3 linked regions of the Homo sapiens genome follow. The protein of the gene in region 2 interacts with the protein of the main gene of each other region in a biochemical or structural test. Each region holds a gene or a part of one and is shown on either strand. Other genes may lie near its edges.

What was found. Proteins that work in one complex are often made in the same cells at the same time.
Region 1: the proteins of ZBP1 (region 2) and PLXDC2 form a complex in vitro, tested with the Homo sapiens proteins (one study listed by BioGRID).
Region 3: the proteins of ZBP1 (region 2) and PALD1 form a complex in vitro, tested with the Homo sapiens proteins (one study listed by BioGRID).

The regions. Positions count from the first base shown.
Region 1 is NC_000010.11:20,211,314-20,219,068, forward strand, and holds part of PLXDC2 (plexin domain-containing protein 2 isoform 1 precursor), read left to right. Parts: intron 1-355; coding exon 356-416; intron 417-6,112; coding exon 6,113-6,263; intron 6,264-7,750; coding exon 7,751-7,755. UniProt on the Homo sapiens protein: May play a role in tumor angiogenesis.
Region 2 is NC_000020.11:57,603,050-57,610,804, reverse strand, and holds the end of ZBP1 (Z-DNA-binding protein 1), read left to right. Parts: intron 1-109; coding exon of another isoform or gene 110-272; intron 273-437; coding exon 438-656; intron 657-2,085; exon of another isoform or gene 2,086-3,992; intron 3,993-5,303; exon of another isoform or gene 5,304-5,392; intron 5,393-6,035; coding exon 6,036-6,232; 3' UTR 6,233-6,953; downstream 6,954-7,755.
Region 3 is NC_000010.11:70,530,649-70,538,403, forward strand, and holds part of PALD1 (paladin), read left to right. Parts: intron 1-641; coding exon 642-806; intron 807-1,972; coding exon 1,973-2,133; intron 2,134-2,346; coding exon 2,347-2,422; intron 2,423-3,273; coding exon 3,274-3,425; intron 3,426-3,776; coding exon 3,777-3,876; intron 3,877-4,090; coding exon 4,091-4,195; intron 4,196-7,162; coding exon 7,163-7,258; intron 7,259-7,631; coding exon 7,632-7,755.

The sequences.
Region 1 (7,755 bases), on a different chromosome or scaffold from region 2:
TTGTTTTAATGATGAGAAAAAAAATACAAGGTAAAAGAAAATCCACTTCATAGAAGAGCGATTGGTCTTATCTTTGTGCAGGGATCTAGGTATTCCGTACAGTGCAGTTTGCTTTAACAGTGATTTGGTTGCCATGTGCGATCCTAACAGTGACATCCTAAGGAATGAGTGATTATTTAGCAACCCTCTAAATATTTCCCTGCTTCTCCAGTTGCGAGTTCTATAGAAGAGTTAATGTTATGCTAAACTGAAAATGTGAGAATGAACTACCTACTAATCTTTTACTTTTAATTTCTGTCCACCACCCTGCACCCTATCCTTCCTTTTCTGAACTGCATTGTGGTCTTCTTTGAAGATGTTCCAGTGGATTTGATCGTCATCGGCAGGACTGGGTGGACAGTGGATGCCCTGAAGAGGTACACATGCTTTATTGTGACAGAATCCTGGGACCAAGCTGTCATATACATGTGTTTTAACTGTTAATAATTTTTATTCAAAATTTATGCCCTAAAACTTAATGAAAGGAGAAGAATCCTTCTATAAGCCCAATGTCTGCAAATATTAGGGGTTCGATAACAGCTGGCTATTTTTGTTAAATTAGATAACATTTTCATTACATTGTAGCAACTTGCTACAACCCCTAATAGATGCAGACATGGGGCTTAACTATTTATATGTATTATCTCATTTCATTGTCATATTCATTCTATGAAGAACAGTGCCTGCACTGTCACTACCCCCATATTACCAAGGAGAGAAAGGGGAGGAGTGAGGGGAGCTTGTGGGGAGGGGTGAAGTGTGGGTTCTTGGAGAGTCAGGTAAATGGCTAGGGAATAGTAGGGCCAGGATTGGAATCTGTAGAGGAGTTCTCTTAAATGCTTGCTATTTTTCTAGGATGTACGAAACCATTGTTCCTCTTTGTAATTCAAACAGCAAGACCAGTGGTATTGTGGAGGGTGGAAGACTGCAGCAAATTGATGTGCTGTAATAAATGAGAAATTGTATAACATTAGTTGGCATAGAGAGATGGTATAATGTTAACTCTGAGGGAAACATGATAGAGACAAGGATGCAGTGAAGTCGTGTAAGCAATTGGATACCAGAAACAATTTTAACCCGTTTAAAAGCTTTGCAGTGACTCGCATTTATACTATCATTTCAAGATCATATAAAGATATCCTATAAAGTTTATGAAGAAAAGCATTTACTTCTTCTCCCTTCATTAAGTTTTGGGGTATCAATTTTGAATTAAAACTGCTAACAATTACAAAAGTTTAGCAAAGCAAGCCATGCCAAAATGCTGTTTTAAAAACTATTTGTTCAATGGTTACTTAGAGACTTTTTAAAAATTCATTTTTGGGGGGCATGTTTCATAAAGATCTTGAGCAATACATTTTTAAAAACATTCTTGAACTTTAAATGCAGTATTGCCAGTGTAGCTATAACCAACCTTTTGGCATTTCATTTAGGGAATGACAGCAGTGTGTGCTCATCCGTCTCACCTCACTTATCTAATAACGTAGTTCCAAAGAGTATCTATTGACAAAGCCATAGTTGTGTTTTGAGACAATCATTTCTTTCATATAATCAGTTACCTCAATATAAAATGTTGAAAATGAATATCTCCATATATGTAAAGATTGAGAATGTAATTCAGATGTATATTTTTTCTCCCAAATTTGGTTTATCTTTTCATTTTCTCTATGATTTTATTTCACTAACATTAATTATCAATTTAATCTGTCAAATGTATGAATCTTTTATTTTTATGATGAGTTTTATATGCCTGTGCATCTTCTTTTAGAAGAATTTTCCTACCAAATTCCATCTAGGTGTTATTTTTGTGTATTTTTTTCTGAATATTTTAAAGCTTTGTCTTACACGTCAAAATCTATTCCATTTGGAATTGGTTTTTATGTATTATATAAGGTAGAGATTCAGTTTCGTGGGGTTTTTTTTCTTGATGGATAGCCAAATTTCAAGCACCATTTGTTAACTAATCCTTTCTTTTGGCAATATCTTGCAAAGTCACCTGTTTTATGTATATTTTCTGGGCTCTCCTCTTCTAAAGCTCTGTCAGTACTTAGATCAGTGTCCCACTGTATTAATTTCTATTGTTTTATAAGAAATCTTACTATATACAGGACAAATCTCCTTACTTTTTCTTCTTCACAAGTGTTTGGGTATTTTAGGGCTTTTGTCCTTCATATAAATATTAAACTCACCTTGTCGAGATCTGTAATCCATCTATCAATACATCTTACTAACATTTTATTGGAAATACATTAAATTATGAATTAGATCACATTTCCTAATTACAGAGGCTTTTAAAATTTACCTTTTTTACTATTGACTTCTAGACTAATTGAGTCATCATCAGAGAACATGTTATGATCTTTAAAGTTGATTGGAAATTTTTCATGAACAAGTACATGGGCATTTTGTACAAAGGGTCTATGTGTGTTCAAGAAAAATGTGTGTTTTCCTGTTGGTTGGGTGTCAAGCTTGATAAATGTACTCTTCAGCTATACTTCTCCACTCTCTTTATTTTCACCTTCTGACTTCTTTGAAAGCTTGCCATTTTCATCTTTTCCTCATATTTTTAAACCTCTATTATATGTAATCTCTTTCCTTATTACTCTGTGCTGTATTTGGAGCAATTTCTTCAGATGTATTTACCGGTTTATTAACTCTCCCTTCATCTTGTTTAATATTCTATGTAATCTACTCACTGAAGTAGAAATTCCAACAAACATTTTTCATATCTAAAATTAAATTTGACACTTATTACATCTGCCAAGTATTTTATAGTTTCATGTGAACCGTTCATTTCTCAATTTTATCTTTTATGATTTTAAATATTCCGTGTATGATTTTTGTATATTCCATATTGGATGATCCCATTATCTAAAATTTTGGTGATCTAAATAGTGTGGTCATTGTTTTTGCTGATTCTTTCTCAGACAGCTATTTTTTTTTCTTTTTTAGTGTATATTTGTCTGATCCTATTCTAAGACCTAAATAGGTGATGTTTTCCCCCAAAGAAGATTTGATGATGGGATCCTCAGGATTTTCAGGCTACCATAAGTCTCTGCCCTAATGTGAGGAGGAGAAGTTCAGATTTTTCTCCCCTGTCTACTACTGCTGCAAGGCTTGTTCTCTTTAGAGCGATATTGATTTTGGATTTTTTTCCTCAGGGCAAATTCTGCTTTTTTAACTTCCCTTAATGTATACAGCTCCTACTGTCTTTATAGCACATAGCTTTTGCTTTGTTTTATTTTTTGAGTGGGGAGGGGAATAAACAATGGAAAGGCACCATTGGGATATTCTTTACCTCCTGCAAATCCTAAGGCTTTAAAATTCAAGTTTTATTCAGAATCTACTTGTTTTGTTATAGGAGGGCTATTTAGTTCCTTAGTCTGCCGTTACTGCCAAAAGCAATCTGAGCCTAGGATTTTACCTTAAACGTAGGGTGTTTACTGAACATTATTAGATCCTGTTTACGGAATACTAGGTCCTGTTCATTGACAGTAGAAACACAAAGAGAGAATAATATATGGCAAGTTCCATTCTATACTCCTTGAGTTTGAGATGTGTGTGACATTCACATGCAGACACCTGGTCAATAGATGACTTTTTGGGCCTGAAATCCAAAAGAGGAATGTGGACTGGAAATATAGATTTATGAATAATCAACATAAAGATGTTCATTGCAGTCATGGGTGTAGAAGAGATTGCAAAAGATAATGCATAGAATGAAGTGACAGAGCAAGAATGATCCATAAGAACCACCCCAACACTTAAGGAATTGACATAAATAAAAGGAAATTGAGATGGAGTTGTGAGGGAGGTGTCAGAACATTGAGGAGAGGGTGTGTCACAGAAACCAAGACAGGGGAGTGGACATCTGCACCATAGGCTGATGAGGTGTCAGTAGGACACCATGGAAGATGTTGGATATTTAGCTAAGGAGATATTTAGAAACATTGGTACGAGAAATTTCAACTCAGTTGGATTAGGTAAGAGCAAGATTGTCATAAAAGGGAAAGCTGGGAGTCTGAGAAGACCAAGGCAGACTGATCTCTCTGGAAATATGACTGCGTATGAATGGAGGGAAAGCAGTATAATGTCAGGATGCATTGGGGAGAAGAGGGAGGCAGTCCCTCTTCTGGGACTGCCTCCCTTTGCAAACTGGAATTTGGGTTTGCAAAATAAGATTAGGCATGCTTGTGTACCTTTAAGTGTTGTTGATAAGAAGCCAGCAGAGAATTAGGGGTGGCAAATATTGTAGAGAAAGGACTATGATCACCTAAGCAAATTCACAATACCTGTGAAGGTGGGCTGAGTTGAGCTAGGACATAGGTAGAAATAGGTTGAAAGGATGGCTATAAGGAAAGGTCCCCATCCATTATCACAGAAGGAAAGAATAGGTCAGCCCAGAGTCAAGTAAGTATGCTGATTCACTAAGAAATTTAAAGAAATCTTGCTGATCATGCCTATTTATCAAGGAAATGGAAGGTGAACCCAAGGAGTAAAACCGGGAGAATCATGATGGGATTGCAGTTTTAGGTAAAGTGGAGAGAGCTTGAAATTCATACTGAGCATAATGGGAGAGGTGATTAGCAAGACACAGCAATGCTGCCAAGTGGTATGCACGGCCCTGCTAAGGATGCAGGAGATGTTTGTGGAGCCCCCATGGCGGGTCTGTGTGATTATTCTCCAGCTGTGCCTGGCTTTGGAGCAGGCAGGGAAAAGGCAGATCTTTTCTTTAAAGGTGTTGTAGAAAAAAAAACTAAAAAAAAAAAAAAATAAAAAAATAGAGCAAGATGCTTGAAGCTACTGAAATGAGTGGTTGAAGTAATGGGGGAAAAAGAAACTTAAAAACAAAATCATTTTCTTAGGCTTTCTAAGTAGTCAAAGAATAAGAAGAATTGGAGTTCGCAGGTACAGGGATAGATGGAAAAAGGATAACTGAGCTTATGATTTCAGATCTAAAACATTTTCCACTACAGATATAGTCCAGGGTGTGGGGATGACAACTAAAGTGGTATCTGAAAGGAAATAATTAGATTAATGGGGCTCAGAGGTGCAGGAACTGGAATTTGGGGAATTAAATGAGACCCTAGTATGTTTAGACTTGAAGTGGAGAATAAACCTGTTTCATATCCTATTAATGAAAAGGAGGCTGTCTCAGGAAGTCTGCATTAACAAGGGGAAAGGCACCTAGCGCTCCACTAATGATGAGAGAAGTTTAAGAATGATATTTATTTAACAATAATTTTAAAATGTGGGATGAGAACCACTCATGTCCAGAATAGTTATTTTCTACTCAAGGCCCACCTGAGAGAGGGAGTCCACTGCGGCACAAAAGGTGGATAGAAACACCAACTTCTAAGCTATAAAAGTTTGGATGTTGGAGGTTGTTACCAGTGAAGGTTGTAGGATTTGTTTTCACAAATTAAAAATAAAAAATTCACTATGTCTCATTTCCTGATGTTTTCAATATAGCTCTGCTAAGGAGGAAAATAGGCTGAGTGATTACAAGAGTTCTGTTCAATCCTTTGCTTATGTGGTTTTGAATATTTCATAAAGGAAAACAAAATTTTAGACATTCATTCAACTTGTGACAGATGATTTTTGAAACAATGAAGTAGTATGGGGAAGTTAGCAAATATTTCGGATTTAGCATTGTCAGTTTGATACGAAAGGAATGCACTTTTTCTCCACAAACCTGAGTATGTTTTAAACCTTATCTTTATGCACCTGTTTTTCTTCTAGTATAAATTTTCCCTTTTGACAGTGTGTCTTTTATAAATATACCAATGTAAAATTTAGGGCAAGGTAAACAGTAATATGAAAGCTTAACAGCAGTAAATGATGAAACCTAAATATCTAAAAAGGGAAATGCCTTGTTCCATCCATCTTTTTCTCTTTCCTATTTTATAAACTTCATAAATTAGCAAAATCATTAATATAGTCTTGTACAAAAGTAATTTATTCCTTGTCTTGATATGAGAGGCTTTTGTGCTTTACAGCCCAGCTTCTTTGATGTAAGTTCTAAAAATAGATTTGTGATCACTCCATTTGTTTTCCTTTTCTTTTCTCTTACTAGTCAAAAGAGAAGATGTGTGAGAATACAGAACCAGTGGAAACTTCTTCTCGAACCACCACAACCGTAGGAGCGACAACCACCCAGTTCAGGGTCCTAACTACCACCAGAAGAGCAGTGACTTCTCAGTTTCCCACCAGCCTCCCTACAGAAGGTACCCAAGAGATAGTTTGCTTTTTTTTTTTTTTTTTTTTTTTTTTTTCCCTGAAGGAAGGAAAAATCACTGTGTTGACATGTACTGGAATAGCTCCTACTCTCTAGGTCTCTCTAAAGTTATTCTTTGGCAAACTGGATTTCTAAGGGATTTCCAAAGGGGAAAAAGACAAAATTATTATGAACTAAAAGTAAATGCTGGGATTCTTTTAATGCACTGTGCCTTTTTTTAAGACATAGCTTTTACCATTGATTCTGGCTTCTTGTCCTCTCCTTCCTAGAAAAGAAATACAGATTTCTTCCTGTGTGGCTAAATTTTGTACTAAGCAAATCCAACTTCACAATCACAGGTTAGAAAGGCAAAATGCATATAAAATGTCCGTTGATTCTGGATTCTGAACAATAAATAATTCTATTAATATATAATTCTAATGTTTTCCAGAATGCAGTCAATAAAATATATTGGTCTATAACCTATACAGAAACACTGTATGTGTCATAGAAATTGTCCTTGAAAACAACTATTTCCTCTTCTAAGGTAGGCAGAAATACTAGAGAGTGTTAATGCTTGGGCACAGCTCAGGAGGAAGAAAGTGTATTACCCAACATACGATAATTTTCTATTCTGAATGATACCACCAGGAGGGAGAGGGCAGAAACATAAGACTGGCCACGAATCAGGTTTGAGGGGGATAAATGGGTCTTACTTGTTTATTGTTATAAGCCTCACTTTCTTTGGCTTGAATAAAAAATTAAATATGGAACTTTTAATTGGAATTTAATTTGATATTATAAGGTGAACTGGAATAAAGTGGGGTGGAAAGCAGCTGCTAAGTGCATTTTACTGCTTTTAAAAGCAACATTATCTTTTAATCCATATTATTTTGGATTATTATATTAAAGTCCACGAAAATATTCCTATAATTTAAACCCTACCCTTTAGAGTGAAACATAACCAGTAAAATAAAAAAGCATATCCTACATTTTGTTCAGTCAGGATAAGATCTCTTTATATAGAATTTTGGTCATCTTTTCTAGCAATGGGTAAACATTTAACTTTTGGAGTTAAATTTGTAAATATTGACAAATCTTAACTGTCACAATGAATTTGGATTTTCCTTGATCTTGATTTTTTAAAATGAATAAATAAGGTCATAACTATAGGTTCTAATTACAATAAGTGATTTTAGAGAATTAAAAATAGCTGTATTTTAACTTTTAATTATTACTGCTTACTTTTCTTGTAGAACTTAAGGATCATTCAAGATGTTACCAAAATCTTGACATTACAATCTCTGTAGGAAATTTTAGAACTACATCATGTAAAGCAAGGACTTGCTCTCATTGCACTAGAAATTACCACAATAAATTATCAAAATCTAGTCATGTTCCGACCAAGGCAGTTAGTAGACAATTACTAGTCATAAGATTTATGCTCCTTTGAAATCAATCCTTTTCTGTTATAGTAACTTTGAATTTCTCTTCCAGATGAT
Region 2 (7,755 bases):
AGTGTGGATGATTCTTCAGAAGTTTGGGTGGGAAAGGGCAGAGCCAGATGGCAGGAGCTGGGGCCAGGCTGGGAGCCCCCATAAGATTTCAACCAAAAGTGGGGGCCAGTGTTCCAGTGCAGTGGGAAGCAGGCAGCAGAGGAGAGAGGAGCTGAATCCCAGAGGAAGACACTGACGTCCAGATCAGCCGGGCGGGATCAGTGGGGCAGACCCACTGCGGGATCAGTGGAGCAGAAAGACGCTTCCCAGACAGCACAACAGCACGAGCGGAGGTGTGGCGGGTGGAGGTGTGGCGGGCAGGCACAGGCTGTGCTCCTGGGATGGTGTGGGCCACTGGTGGGAGATCTGGGGAGGAGGGTGAACCAGGCTGGGGGTCAGGGTTCCCGGCCACTGTCCAGCTGCTCCTGGCTCCAGGCCTCTCTCCCTTTGACCCACAGTCTCTGCCACTGCTGCCGGCCCAGAAGCTTCGTTTGAAGCAAGAATTCCCAGTCCAGGAACTCACCCTGAGGGGGAAGCCGCCCAGAGAATCCACATGAAATCGTGCTTTCTCGAGGACGCCACCATCGGCAACAGCAACAAAATGTCTATCAGCCCAGGGGTGGCTGGCCCAGGAGGAGTCGCAGGGTCTGGAGAGGGGGAGCCAGGGGAGGACGCAGGTGAGCTAGGGGGCAGAGTGGACCCCTGTGTGTTCTCTCTCTCTCCCCACCTTCCACTCATTCATTCATTCACTCTCATCGATCATTCGCTAATCTCTGGTTTCCCGGAGTCTGGAGGCTGTGCCCACCCACAGCGAGGAGCAGCAGCTCTAGAGTCAGCGTGGAGGCTCCGTCCCCCTAGTGGAGGGACCCACCCAAGTCATTTCACCCAGGAGCCTCTGTCTCCTTAGCTGTAAAGTGGGATGGCAAGAATAGCCTGAAGCAACTCCTACAGTGGTTGCAAGACTGGGGTAAAATCTGAAGGCGAAGCTCAGCCCTACACCAGCCCTGCCAGCATTCAGGAGATAGGAGTGTTATTGTCTCATCATTGTTGTGGTGATTGTTTTGGGCCCGAGAGAGGTGCTGGGTTGCCATGCAAATAAGGTTCTGCATCAGGGCACAGGCTGACCTGCTGCAGTGGAGATGCCACACACGGTGGCCCCGCCTGCTTGAAGCCCAAGTCTCATGTCCGGGTGAGGGTAGCAGACCAGGGTTTCTTTTACCTCAGTGCTGAGTCGTCCCTTGGGCTCCGTCCTCATCTGTGGGGTTGAACTTAGCACCAGCAAGCAGAGGGGCGAGAGAGGGTACAGAGAGCCGCTGTTGTCTTTGACCAAGCCCACCCACTGCATCTGTGCTGTTCTGAGGGCCTGCACTTAGCCACGGGGGGTCTGGGAAGTGCCGCCTGTGTCAAGGCAGTCTAAGCCCAGCAGAGACTCAGGGGAGGGGGCTCCACTGCCAACAGGAAGAGGGGAGAGGGGAAACCAGTGCGGTTCACCGTCCCAGCCACCGTTTGGTCCCTGGAAGCTGCACAGGCTGGTTGCAGAGCCTGAGGATTCCAACTCTGCAGAAGGGAGCTCGGGGCCTCGGGTGGGGGCAGCTGGAGAGTTGGGCAGGTCCACGCAAGGTGGGGAGGGCCAGGGCAGGTGTACCTGGTGGGTGGAACAGTGTGGACAATGGCCTGGAGGTGAGGACATGACAGTGTGGGAACCCACAGGGGTTTGAGGGTGACCTGAGCATGGAGAGCAGAGCCAGGGCCTGGCTCCAGGCTGCAGTCGATGCTAAGGCAATTGGAAGCCATGGGGGGCTTTGAGCAGGAGAGGGGCTGGATGAGATTTTTGCCTCCCATGTGAAAAAAGAATTAGAAGGCGGATTTCCGCTCCTACCCTTTTGGGATCTGGAATAAGGAATCACACCCAGTCCCACCAATGGGTAGAAAACATGGATTCACGGAATCTGGAGGACTGGCCGGCATCCACCCTCCAGTGCCTGAAGGCCCAGGGGATGCATGTCCTGGAAGTCCAGAGGGTCTCCTCACCCCAAGGGCCGTGTCCTTGCTGTCCCAGCAACTGAGGAGACCCTGGCCCCACGTGTCTTCAAACTCTCCCTCCAGGACCCCTGGGAGCCCCATGCACATGTGACACCTGCAGAACGGGGACCAGGAGCGCATTCCTCAGGACTCAGGCCATGAGCATCTGGGAGCATGGACTTCCTTCCAGCAGCAAAGGGAGTCTCTGAGACCTCCAAGGCCACTGGGGACCCTTGGGAGGGCATGTGCCACCAGATGGGGATCCGGCTTAGGACCCCACAGCACAGGCTGTCTGCAGAGCCCTGTGGGTCTCAAGCCAGACCATTGAAGACTTCTCTTTCCGGAAAGAACACAGCACTGTGTTTTTTAAAAATAGCCACACTTCTGGGTGTAGTGGCTCATGCCTGTAATCCCAGCACTTTGGGAGGCCGAGGCAGGTGGATCACGAGGTCAGGAGATCGAGACCATCCTGGCTAACACGGTGAAACCCTCTCTCTACTAAAAAATACAAAAAATTAGCCAGGCATGGTGGCGGGCACATGTAGTCCCAGCTACTCAGGAGGCTGAGGCAGGAGAATGGCGTAAACCTGGGAGGCGGAGCTTGCAGTGAGCCAAGATCATGCCACTGCACTCCAGCCTGGGCGACAGAGCAAGACTCTGTCTCAAAAAAAAAAAATGGTCACACTCCCAGATTTGCCCTGCAACATCCTGACATTCTTCCCTAAGGTTCTAGCAGAAGAGCTGATGACATCTTTGCCCCTTGCCCTGACCCACCCACCTCTCTTTGTCCCCAAGAGACATCAATAGGCATAGCTCAGAGATATTATGGGTGAGTTCCAGAACACCCCAATAAAGCAAGTCATGCAAATTTTTGATTTCCCAGTGCATATACAAGTTATATTCACACGATGCTCTAGTCTATTAGGTGTGCACTGAATCACGTTATATCTAAAAAACAATGTACATACCTTAATTTTAAAATACTTTATTGCTAAAAATGCTAACCATCACCTGTCTTCTGCCAGTCATCATCTCTATGCTGGTGGAGGTCTTGCCTTGATGTTGATGGCTGCTGACTGATCAGGGTGGTGGTTGCTGAAGGTGGAGGCAGCTGTGGCAATTTCTTAAAATAAGGCAACAATGAAGTTCGCTGCAGCAATGAACTCTTCCTTTCATGAAAGCTTTCTCTGTAGCATGCAATGCTGTTTGATGGCATTTTACTCATACTAGAACTTCTTTCAAAATTGGAACCAAGACTCCCCAACCCTGCTGCTGCTTTACCAACTAGGTTTATATAGCAGTCTAAATCCTTTGTTGTCATTTCAAGAATGTTCGCAGTATCTTCACCAGGAATAGATGCCATCTCAAGAAACCACTTTCTTTGCTCATCCATAAGAAGCAACTCATCTGTTCAAGCTTTCTCATGAGATTGCAGCAATTCAGTCCCATCTTCATATTCCACTTCTAATTTGTGTTTTCCTGCTATTTCCACCACATTTGCAGTTGCTGCCTTCACTGAAGTCTTGAACCCCTCAAAGTCATTCATGAAATTTGGAATCAACTTCTTCCAGACTCCTGTGAATGTTGATAGTTTGACCTCCTCCCATGAATCACAAATGTTCTTAACGGCATGTAGATTGGTGATCTTTTCCAGAAGATTTTCAACTTACTTTGCCCAGATCCATCTGAGGAATCACTCTGTGTTGCACTTATGCCCTCATAAAATATATTTATTGAAGAATAAGAAGTGAATGTTGAAGTTACTCCTTAATCCATGGGCTGCAGAATGGATGCTGTGCTAGCAGGCATGAAAACAATGTTAATTCTTTTTTACATCTCCATCAGAGCCCGTGGATGAACAGGTGCATTGTCAACGAGTAGTAAAAAAAAAATTTTTTTTTGGCCCTCAATCCAGGATGCGGAACACTCAGATCCTGTGGTATGGACGATGAGCAGTGAAATGTTCAAAGGAATATTTTGTTTTCTAAGCAGTAAGTCTCAATGCTAGGCTTAAAATATTCAGTAAACCAAGCTATATACAGGTGCTCTCATCTAGCTTTGTTGCTTCATTCATAGAACATAGGCAGAGTCGATTTAGCATCATTCTTAAGGGCCCTAGAATTTCCAAAATGGTAATTGAGGAGAGGCTTCAGCTGAAAGTCACCAGCTACATTAATCTCCAACAAGAGAGCCTGTCCCCTTTGAAGCTTTGAAGCCAGGCATTGACATCTCCTTTCGAGTTATGAAAGTTCTAGATGACATCTTTTTTCAATAGAAGGCTGTTTCATCTACATTAAGAACCTGCTCTGTTGTGTAGTCACGCTCATCAATGATCTTAGCTAGAGCTTCCGGGTAACCTGCTGCAGCTTCTCCATCAGCACTTGCTGCTTCACCTCACACTTGCATGTTATGGGGACGGTTTCTTTCCTTAAACCTCATGAACCAACCTCTGCTCACTTCCAACTATTCTTCTGCAGCTTCCTCACCTCTCTCAGCCTTTAGAATTGAATAGAGCAAGGGCCTTGCCCTAGACGAGGCTTAGGTTTAAGAGATTGTTGTAGCTGGCTCGATCCTCTATCCAGACCACTAAAACTTTCTCCACACTAGCCACAAGGCTGGTTCACTTTCTCATCACTCATGTGTTTGCTGAAGTAAGACTTTTAATATCCTTCAAGACCCTTTCCTTTGCCTTCACAATTTGGCTAACTTTTGACCTAGCTTTCAACTTGTCTTAGCTTTGGACATGCCTCCCTCACCAAGCTTAATCATTTCTCACTTTTGATTTAAAGTGAGAGACGTGCAACTCTTCCTTTCACTTTAGCACATAGAGGCCGTTTGGGGTTATTTATTTATTTATTTATTTATTTTTGAGATGGAGTTTTGCTCTCGTTGTCTAGGCTGGAGTGCAATGGCACAATCTTGGCTCACTGCAACCTCCACCTCCCAGGTTCAAGGGATTCTTTTGCTTCAGCCTCCTGGGTCGCTGTGATTACAGACCTGCACCACCACGCCTGGCTAACTTTGTATTTTTAGTAGAGATGGGGTTTCTCCATGTAGGTCAGGCTGGTCTTGAACTCCCAACCTCAGGTGATCTGCCCACCTCAGCCTCCCAAAGTGTTGGGATTCTAGGTGTGACCCACGGCGCCCGGCCCATTGTAGGGTTATGAATTTTCCTAATTTCAATATTGTTGTGTCTTCAAGGAATAGGGAGGCCTGAGGAGAGGGAGAGAGAGGAGGAGATGGCTGATCAGTGACAGGTTAGAGCACACAGATTTATTAATTAACTTCGTCATCTTCTACAGGTGATATTTGTGGCACCCCAAAGCAAAGCAATTATAATAGCAACATCAAAGATCACTGGTCACAGATCACCATAACACATATAATCAAAATGAAAAAGTGTGAAATATTGTGAGGATTACCAAAATGTGACGCAGAGACAGGAAGTGAGCATATGCTGCTGGAAAAATTGGCACTGATAGACTCGCTTCACACAGGGTGCCACAAACCTTCAACTTGTGAAAAATGAGTGCAATATCTATGAAGTGTAATAAACCAAAGTACAATAAGGTAAAGTGAGATAAAATGAGGTCTGCCTGTCACTTCCTCCTTGAGTGGCGGGCGGGACCTTATCCTGAGATGTGTAAGGCCTGGAATGGTTTTTGTTTTGTTTTGTTTTGTTTTGTTTTGTTTTGTTTGAGGAAATTGCTAATCAGAGACTGTCAGTGCCAGAGCATGTAGAGCCGTCTTTTGGGGTCCCTGGGAGGACTGGGAGAGCCCTGGGATGGGGGCTTTCTGGTGTTATTTCTGCTCCTCCATCTCACTGCTGTGAAACTAGGACAGGACTGGCTACATGATCTGGGGGCCCAGTGCAAAGTGAAAAGGTGGGGCTCCCTGTTCAAGACTTTGTACAAATCTAAAGACAGTAACAACAAAGGCTCAAGCTGAGCTCGAAATCCTTCCAAGAGCGGGTCCCTGTGGAAATGCCCAGGCCACGTGCCCATGAAGCTGATCCCCCATCTTCTCTTCCCTAGGTCGTCGTCCCGCAGACACACAATCCAGAAGTCACTTTCCTCGAGACATTGGTCAGCCCATCACTCCCAGCCACTCGAAGCTCACCCCCAAGCTGGAAACTATGACTCTTGGAAACAGGAGTCACAAAGCTGCAGAAGGCAGCCACTATGTGGATGAAGCCTCACACGAGGGGAGCTGGTGGGGAGGTGGGATTTAGTGCACAGCCTCACGTGGGGCTTGGACACAGGCTGGGGGTGGGCGCATGCTAGGGAGACTAGCCTGCTGCTCTCTGCATTCCTTAGCGTCTTGTTTGACCTGCTTGCTTCCAGACATAACCTGCATGAATCAGTTTTGGGGGAATGGACCTGGCATGGGGATGGGTTCAGGCCAGGTCTTTTGATGGCCAGGAGTAGATGACAGGGAGTTGCCTTGGGGAACCTTTGGTGTGCCAAGAGGAGGTGGGTAGATGGGAGTGGGGCTCGGTCCCCCAGGCCCAGGGGACTCTCTCCACTCTTTCCTGGGCTCGGGGCATCTGCCTGGAGTTACCTTCCATCATGGCTACCTGCTGTGGTTTGAATGTTTGAGTCCCAACAAAATTCATATCAAAACATAATCCCAACTGGGTGCAGTGGCTCACGCCTGTAATCCCAGCACTTTGGGAGGCCGAGGCGGGCGGATCAATAGGTCAGGAAATCCAGACCGTCCTGGCTAACATGGTGAAACCCCGTCTCTACTAAAAAAAAAAATACAAAAAATTAGCCGGGCGTTGTGGCGGGCACCTGGAGTCCCAGCTACTCCGGAGGCTGAGGGAGGAGAATGGTGTGAACCCGGGAGGTGGAGCTTCCAGTGAGCCGAGATCGCGCCACTGCACTCCAGGCTGGGCGACAGAGCGAGACTCCGTCTCAAAAAAATAAATACATAAATAAAAAATAAACCAACCATAATCCCCAGTGCAGTGGTATGAAGAGATGGGGCCTTTTGGAGGGGATGGAGTCAGGAGGGCGAGTGGGATTGTGGGATTAGCGCTGCCATGAAAGGGCTTGAGGGAGCCTGTTAGTCCCGCTTGCCTGTCCGCCATGTGAGGATGCAGTAACAAAGTGCCATCCTTAAAGCCGAGACCAACCCCTCATCAGACACTGACTCTGCTGGCACCTTGATCTTGGCCTTCCCAGACCCCGAAACTGTAAGCAATAAATTCCTGTTGCTTATAAATTACCCAGGGTGAGGCATTTTTTTATAGCAGCCTGAGCCAACTGAAACACTGCCCCACTCTCTCCTCACCTGAGGTCTCACTTCCTCAAGGCCCATTGTGGCCACCTGACCTCCTTATCACCCGACCTTTCTAGAATCTTCTCTCCTCAGCCTTGATCTCTCAGGATCTTTTAGCTGGACTCCCAAAGAGAAAATTCTTTCCCACCCCGACCCTGGGTCCCCAGGCCCTGGTGGAAGTCATTGGCTGACCCATGGGTCAGGTGACCTCTTCTGGCCAATCAGCAGGGAGTGCTTGTGGATTAGCCCATTTTCACGCTGCCGATAAAGATATACCCAAGACGGGGTAATTTATAGGCAAAAAGAAGTTTAACGGACTCACACTTCCACGTGGCTGGGGAGGCCTCACAATCACGGTGGAAGGCGAAAGGCACGTCTTACATGGCAGCAGGCAAGAGAGAGAATGAGAGCCAAGGGAAAGTGGCTTCCCTTATGGAGCCATCAGATCTCATAAGACTTACTTCACTACCA
Region 3 (7,755 bases), on a different chromosome or scaffold from region 2:
TGCGATTGTAGGCTTCTTGAGTGCAGCTGCATCTGAATTGACCCCGGAGTTAAGGTGGAAAGGCTTTGAGTGAGACAGAATGGGGTGGGGGTGTGGGCTGTGTGCAGGTCCCATCTTCCCATCTTGATGATAAGTTCCTCAAGGGGACCATCTGCCCACACATTTCCCTCTGCCTGTATGGTGCTCAGTGAATGAATGATTGCGTGGTCATGGGGCATTCATTTCTTCAGCTGATGTTCATCAAACACCTGATTTATCCAGGACACCATGCTAGGACACCATGCTAGGAATTATGGGTACATGAAAATGACCAGGACATGATTTTGCCTACGAGGAACCTGTGGTCCATTAAGGGGGAAAAGATGCATTCATTGATAGTACAAAGCAGGAATTAACGCCAAGAGATTCATATGAAGGACTCTTGACCCTGACAGGAGGCAGGGGTCACTGCTGACTGGGAGGGTCACAGGGAGGTAGCATTTGGACTGAGCTTTGTTTCTTGGGTAGGATTCAGGTTGCAGGGATGGTGTGGGGTGCAGGAGGAAGGAACAGCTTGGGCAGAGGCCCTGAGGTGGGGCAGTGGTGCAGGTGTCTGTGCGGGATCATGATGATGGCTTCCTTCCCCCTCGGGCTCCTGGCAGGAGTGTGTCATCTTCTGTGTGCGGGAGGAACCTGTGCTTTTCCTGCGTGCAGATGAGGACTTTGTGTCCTACACACCTCGAGACAAGCAGAACCTTCATGAGAACCTCCAGGGCCTTGGACCCGGGGTCCGGGTGGAGAGCCTGGAGCTGGCCATCCGGAAAGAGGTGAGGACCAGTGCGGTGTGCGGGAGACCCCAGCCCACAGCCCAGCTTTGCAGATGCTCTTTTTGGGGCCAGCTCACCTGCTCTTACTGGCCCGTGTTCCCCCACTGTTGTGCCCTGCTTGGGTGAGTGGCTGGCTGCAAGGCTGACTCACGGGCAGCCAGAGGAAGGACTTCCTATTCTAGCTCTCTTTGCCTCTGCCCCTTTCCCACCCTGCTTGTCTCCTTGATGCTCAATGTCCTTATTTAGAAAGGGGTCTGGTGGGCCGGGTGCAGTGGCTTATACCTGTAATTCCAGCACTTTGGGAGGCCGAGGTGGGCAGGAGTTCAAGACCAGCCTGACCAACGTGGTGAAACTGTGTCTCTACTAAAAATACAAAAAATTAGCTGGACGTGCTTGCGCATGCCTATAATCCTAGCTACTCGGGAGGCTGAGGCAGGAGAATTGCTTGAACCTGGGAGGCGGAGGTTGCAGTGAGCCGAGATCACACTACTGCACTCCAGCCTGGGCTACAGAGTGAAACTCTTTCTAAAAAAAAAAAAAGAAAAAGAAAAAGAAAGGGTTCTAGGTGAGTGAAAAGAGCGCTAGACCAGAAGGACCAAGGCTGCAGTTCAACGCTTTGAGAGCCACGAGCCTCTGAGTCAGTTCCCTCAGTGGGTCTGTGGGCCTGTTTCAGTATCCTCTGTCCTCCTCCTCCTCCATAACACAGAGGCTTGTGGAGGCCTCTGAGGCAGCTGACATACCATGAAGGTGTGTGAATAGAGTGTGGGGTCCCAGTGTCCCCAGAAACTTCCAGGTCAGGAACCGAGGCCATGCCGGCGCCCAGCTCTTTGCCTCTCCCATCCCCTCCAGGCCTCCTGTGTGCTCTGCTCCCCTCGGCTCCAGCTCCCAGCTGACCACACCTCCCCCGTCCTGGCACTGGTGGCTTTGTGAATTCCTGCACCCACTGGGCAGAGCCCTCCTGCCTTGCCCCTGTGTAGGCACCCCGATTCCTTCAGAACTCCCAGGAATGGCATAGAGAGCACTTCTGGCTGTGTAGTTCCCTCATGGGGGGCAGAAGCCTGCCTGTGGCCTCTGCATGGTCTGGTCACTCCAGAGCTCAGCCAGGACACTCAGGGAGGGTCTTGAAGTTCAGGCCATGGCCCTCTGACCCCCACACCTCCCTCTAGATCCACGACTTTGCCCAGCTGAGCGAGAACACATACCATGTGTACCATAACACCGAGGACCTGTGGGGGGAGCCCCATGCTGTGGCCATCCATGGTGAGGACGACTTGCATGTGACGGAGGAGGTGTACAAGCGGCCCCTCTTCCTGCAGCCCACCTACAGGTACCACAGGGCCACCCCCAGCCCTGGCCATGGGTGCTCCAGGTCCTGCTCTCCAGCTGCAGCCTCAGTTTCACCATCTGCAGGTTGGGCGGAGTCCCCCACACCCATGTCTCCCACAGTGGGGCCCATTTCCAAACAGTGCCCGGGAATAGGGGGTGAGGGGGATTCCCAGAGTGGGTGCCTGCCTGATGGCTGCTCTCCCTCACCTGGCAGGTACCACCGCCTGCCCCTGCCCGAGCAAGGGAGTCCCCTGGAGGCCCAGTTGGACGCCTTTGTCAGTGTTCTCCGGGTAACTGGGGCACGGGCGCGCATGGGGGAGGAGTCTTGAGAGTCGTCCCCATGGAGGTGCTCAGGGTGGGCACAGCCTCTCGCCTTCCTCAGAGGAAGGCTTCATTCTGTGTTGTGTATGTGAGCATGTTAGGGTGGACGTGTGTTGGTGTCTGTCTCTGTATATGTCTGTGTGTGTCAGCGCCTTTGTGTGTGTCTGTGGGGAGTGTGTGTACATGTTTATGTGTCTCTCTGTGTGTCTGTGTGTTCCTGTCTGTGTGTCTCTGTGTGGGGATACATGTGTTTCTGTGTGTGTATGTGTCTGTGTGTGTATGTGTTTGTGTGTGTGTACCTGTATGTAGGTGTGTGTTTGTGCATTCTCTTATGGCAGAGTCCATCACTGACCGCTGGCCCAGCTGCTGGCCGTGGCTGGGCTGCCAACTTGCTGTGTGGTCCCGGACTAATCACCTCACCTCTCTAGACCTCAGTTCCTCCTTTCTTTAGTGGAGCTAACGACTCTTGCCCTATAGACTGTTCAGCTGACATTTCCTGAGTCCTGGCGGAGTTTCTCTCCAGCCCCCTTCAGGGCATTATCTTATTTCACTGGCATCTTGCAGAAGGTGTTAATACTGGCCTGGTGCCCTCTGAGTCGCTCTCACTTCCAGTTCTTTGAGCTCCTCCAAGGCCTGGGGAGGGAGCAGGTGGAGCTGATCAGGCTGTGGCTTTGGCAGAAGAGGCCAAGACACCTATTGGAGCCCACTTTGCTGCAGACTGTGGGGCAGGGTGGGCTGATGTCATGCTTTTCTCCCTGCTCAGGCCTCAGCCCAGGGTTTCCTGGTCTCACTGGGGCCTGATCCTCATGGTCTTTCCCAGGAGACCCCCAGCCTGCTGCAGCTCCGTGATGCCCACGGGCCTCCCCCAGCCCTCGTCTTCAGCTGCCAGATGGGCGTGGGCAGGACCAACCTGGGCATGGTCCTGGGCACCCTCATCCTGCTTCACCGCAGTGGGACCACCTCCCAGCCAGAGTGAGTGGCCCGGGGCCCAGCGTCCTGAAGGGCTGTGGGGCCGAGGAGGGGACAGGCTGCCCCACAGTGTGGGGACATGTCTAGGAGCCCAGAGCCAGAGCTGGAAATTTGGCATCTGGGGTTCATTTCCTGGTTTGCCACGAGACTTGCTGGGAGACCTGGAGAAAGTCACCTGACCTTTCTGGGCCTCAGTTTCCCTAGTTGGGGAAATGTCCCCTGCTTCCCACAATGTGATTCAGAAGGAACCTGTAGTCTGGTGTCCCCCAGCGGCCATATGAGTGGAGACAGCAGGCGGGTGGCCGTGTGAGACCTTTGGAAGAGCCTGCTAATGTACTGACCCTGCCTCGACAGGGCTGCCCCCACGCAGGCCAAGCCCCTGCCTATGGAGCAGTTCCAGGTGATCCAGAGCTTTCTCCGCATGGTGCCCCAGGGAAGGAGGATGGTGGAAGAGGTGAGTGAGGGACAGCAAAGGGCTGGGGCAGGGGTGGTGGAGGGGACGGTCACTCCTCTCACTGGTCGGGGCTCTCTTCCTTCCCGATACCCTCCCCTACCTCTCTGCCAATCTTTTTCTTTCCCTCTCTTTTCTCTTTTCTCCTGCCGTTCTGCCTTGACCCTGCTCCCCACCCCCCCACCTCCCTCTTACTTGCCTTGGTCTCTGGCACCAGGTGGACAGAGCCATCACTGCCTGTGCCGAGTTGCATGACCTGAAAGAAGTGGTCTTGGAAAACCAGAAGAAGTTAGAAGGTATCCGACCGGAGAGCCCAGCCCAGGTGAGGCATGGAAGGACGTGTGAGCACTCTGCTTCTCTGTGAGCCCTGCAGCCTGATTTCATTAGGCATGTTGACTGGTTTCTTTCAGACTGACTTTTTCTGGCTGCTGCGTCTCCCATGAGAAGAGCAGTTTTCAGAGGAAGGGGAGATAGGGGCTCTGGGCCCACAGGAAGGACAAGGAAGAGGGGAAGTTTACTTTTCCTGACCAGGTCCCTTCAGCTGCAGAATAAACAGGACAGAGGAAGGGGCTGCTGGCCAGGGCTGCAGGGGCCCCTGGACTCAGATACTCCCCAGGCCACTCATGGCCTCCCACTAGTAAAACTCCTGGTGTTTCTTTGGGAAGACTGGGGTTTGGTCCAGCTGGCTGCTTCTGAAAGACTTATGGGCTCTAGGCTGTCTCAGCAGACCCTGTCCCCATGCCTTAGCGAAAGGAGGTGGGCTTGATAGTGTTTATATCATACAGCGCATGGAAAGAATCTAAAGCCACAGAGGCAGCTTCTTCTTTTTTCTTGTTTCTTCTTCTCTTCCTCCTCCTCCTTCTCCTCCCCCCTCTTTTTCCTCACCCTCTTCCTCCTTCCCCCTTCCTCCTCCCCCCGCTTCCTCCTTCCCCCTCTTCCTCTTCCCCACTTTTCCTCCTCTCCCCTTCCTTCTCCCTCTCTTCCTCTTTCTCCGCCTCTTCCTCCTTCCTCCTCTTCTTTCCTCCTCCTCCTTCCTCCTCCTTCTCTTCCTTCCTCCTCCTTCTTCCTCCTTCCTTCTCCTTCCTCTTCCTCCTTCTCCTCCTTCTTCTCGTCTTCCTCCTCCCTCCTCCCTTCCTTCTCCTCCTCCTTCTCCTTTCTTCTCCTTTTTCTTCTTCTCTTCCTCCTCCTGCTTCTCCTTCAATAGGGTCTTGCTCTGTTGCCCAGGCTGGAGCGCAGTGGTGCAGTCATAGCTCACTGCAACCTCGAACTCCTAGACTCAAGGGATTCGTCCACCTCAACCTCCTGAGTATCTGGGACTACAGGTGCATGTCACCACACCTTACTTTTTTAGAGATGGGGTGTTGCTATGTTGCCCAGGCTGGTCTTCAACTCCTGGCCTCAAGCAGTCCTCCTGCCTTGGCCTCCCAAAACACTGGGTCTTTTTCTTTCTAAAAATATTTTTAAAAGGCTGGGCACGGTGGCTCACACCTGTAATCCCAGCACTTTGGGAGGCTGAGGCAGATGGATCACTTGAAATCAGGAGTTTGAGACCCGACTGGCTAACATGGTGAAATCCTGTCTCCACAGAAAACACAGAAATTAGCTGGGTGTGGTGGCACGCGTAGTACCAACTACCAGGGAGCTGGTGTGTGCCCAGTAGTACCAGCTATCAGGGAGGCTGAGGCAGGAGGATCTTGTGAGCCCAGGAGTTCCAGGCTGCAGTGGGCTATGATCGTACCACTGCACTCTAGGCTGAGCAACAGAGCAAGACCCTGTCTCAAAAAACAAAACAAAACGAACCCAAACCAAAAAAAATCCCATACAGTACTTAGAGCCTGCCACAGAGTCCCTGGAATGTCACCCCTGCTGTGATTTACTAAACAGTCCCCCTCTTCTTGGACAATTGAGTTGCTCCAGTTCCCCATCAGTGTAAATACTTCTTTGTTGAGCAGCTTCATGAAAATGAAGGCTGTTGTGTATTTAGGATTCTTTCTCCCCTTAGTCTAGATTGGGCATCAGCAAACTACGGCTTAGACCAAATCCAGCCTGCCGCCTGTCTTTGTAAATGTGTTACTGGAACACAGTCTTGCTGTTCTCTACTCTGCTGGCCCACGACTGCTCTTATGCTGGGATGGCAGAGTTCAGTAGCTGCAGCAGGGACCCTGAAGCCTGAAAGTCTAGAGTATTTACCGTCTGGCCCTTTATGGAAAAAGTTTGCCGACACCTGGTGGAGATTCCCAAAGATGGGATTAAATTTCACCAAAGGGCGTGGCCCTTCTTTAGGGCCTCTGTGAATCTCACTTGAATCTCACTTGCCCTCCAAAAGGTACTGACCCAGCAGGAGAACCTGGAGATCCGAGGGCCCTTGGGGTTCTCTCGGACAACCCCCCATGCAGAGGAAGCTGGGCTGGGGTCAGGAGACTTGGGGAATCTGGCTCTGTTTGCTGTCAGCTGTGTGACTTTAAGGAAGTTACCTCATTTCTCTGAATCTCCGTTTCCCTCTGTAAATTAGGAGTAATTAGGATGGCTCCCCTGGAGCACTGCTGTGAGGGTCTTTGTATTTGTATTTTCTTGTGGAGAGGCTCCAGTTCTTTTTTTTTTTTTGAGACAGGGTCTCACTTTGTCATCTGGGCTGGAGTGCAACGGTGAGATCATAGCTCACTGGAGCCTCAACTTCCCAGGCTCAAGCGATTCTCCCACCTCAGCCTCACGAGTGGCTGGGACTACAGGCATGTGCCACCATGCCTAATTTTTGTATTTTTTTATAGAGATGGGGTTTTGCCATGTTGCCCAGCTTGTTTTGCACTCCTGAGCTGAAGCGATCTGGCTGTCTCAGCCTCCCAACGTGCTGGGACCACAGGCGTGAGCCACCGCACCCAGCCAGGTTCCAGTTCTTAAGGGAGGGCCTCTGGCTCGGGGGTGTTCACACACTTGGCTTCCTCAACACAGAGGGTGCACAACCCTGACCTGTTGGGTGTCGCTGGAGCTAAGTGAGGGAGCCCCTGCCTGTCTTGGCGCTGGGAGCCTGCTTGGGGAGACCAGCCCTGCACCTAGAACCACAGTGCCTGGTGTGGTCACCCACATATCTCCCCTGACCGCAGATAACCACAGCATCTGGGATAGGGTGAGACACTTAGAAGAACTTACAGCCTGGCAGAACTGTGTCATGAAGGGAGGGAAAGACTGTCTTCTGGGGAGTTCCAAGGCTTAACTCCTGCCCTTGCAGGGATGGGGACAGGGACAAGACTGCCTGAGGAGTCTGTCCTTAACACCCTGTCCTCTCTCTCAGGGAAGCGGCAGCCGACACAGCGTCTGGCAGAGGGCGCTGTGGAGCCTGGAGCGATACTTCTACCTGATCCTGTTTAACTACTACCTTCATGAGCAGGTGGGGCCTGGGAGGAGCAGACCCACGTCCCCTCCTCCTGGGCCTCTCCCAGCCTCCCCACCGCAGTGACTGGCTTGCTGTGGAGGGAGACCCCCCAAGGAACCGGGGAGGGAAGGGAGGCCAGGAGAGACCCAGATTCGGGAGTAGTCCCTGAGCAGCTGGGCATAGGGAGGCCCCACCTCTTTCCACCGGGCCCTTGTCTCTGTCCTTAACCAGGACACCAGACGTCCAGGTCTTCTCTCAGCCACTCCCTTGTCCCTGCTCTGGGCCATGTTGGATATCTTTTGGGGCTTCCCCTGCCATGGTGTGGGCAGGGAGGGTTCAGGATGGCCCTGTGCCCCTGAATTCCTCGTCTCTCTGCCTCGGGCTGCAGTACCCGCTGGCCTTTGCCCTCAGTTTCAGCCGCTGGCTGTGTGCCCACCCTGAGCTGTACCGCCTGCCCGTGACGCTGAGCTCAGCAGGCCCTGTGGCTCCGAGGGACCTCATCGCCAGGGGCT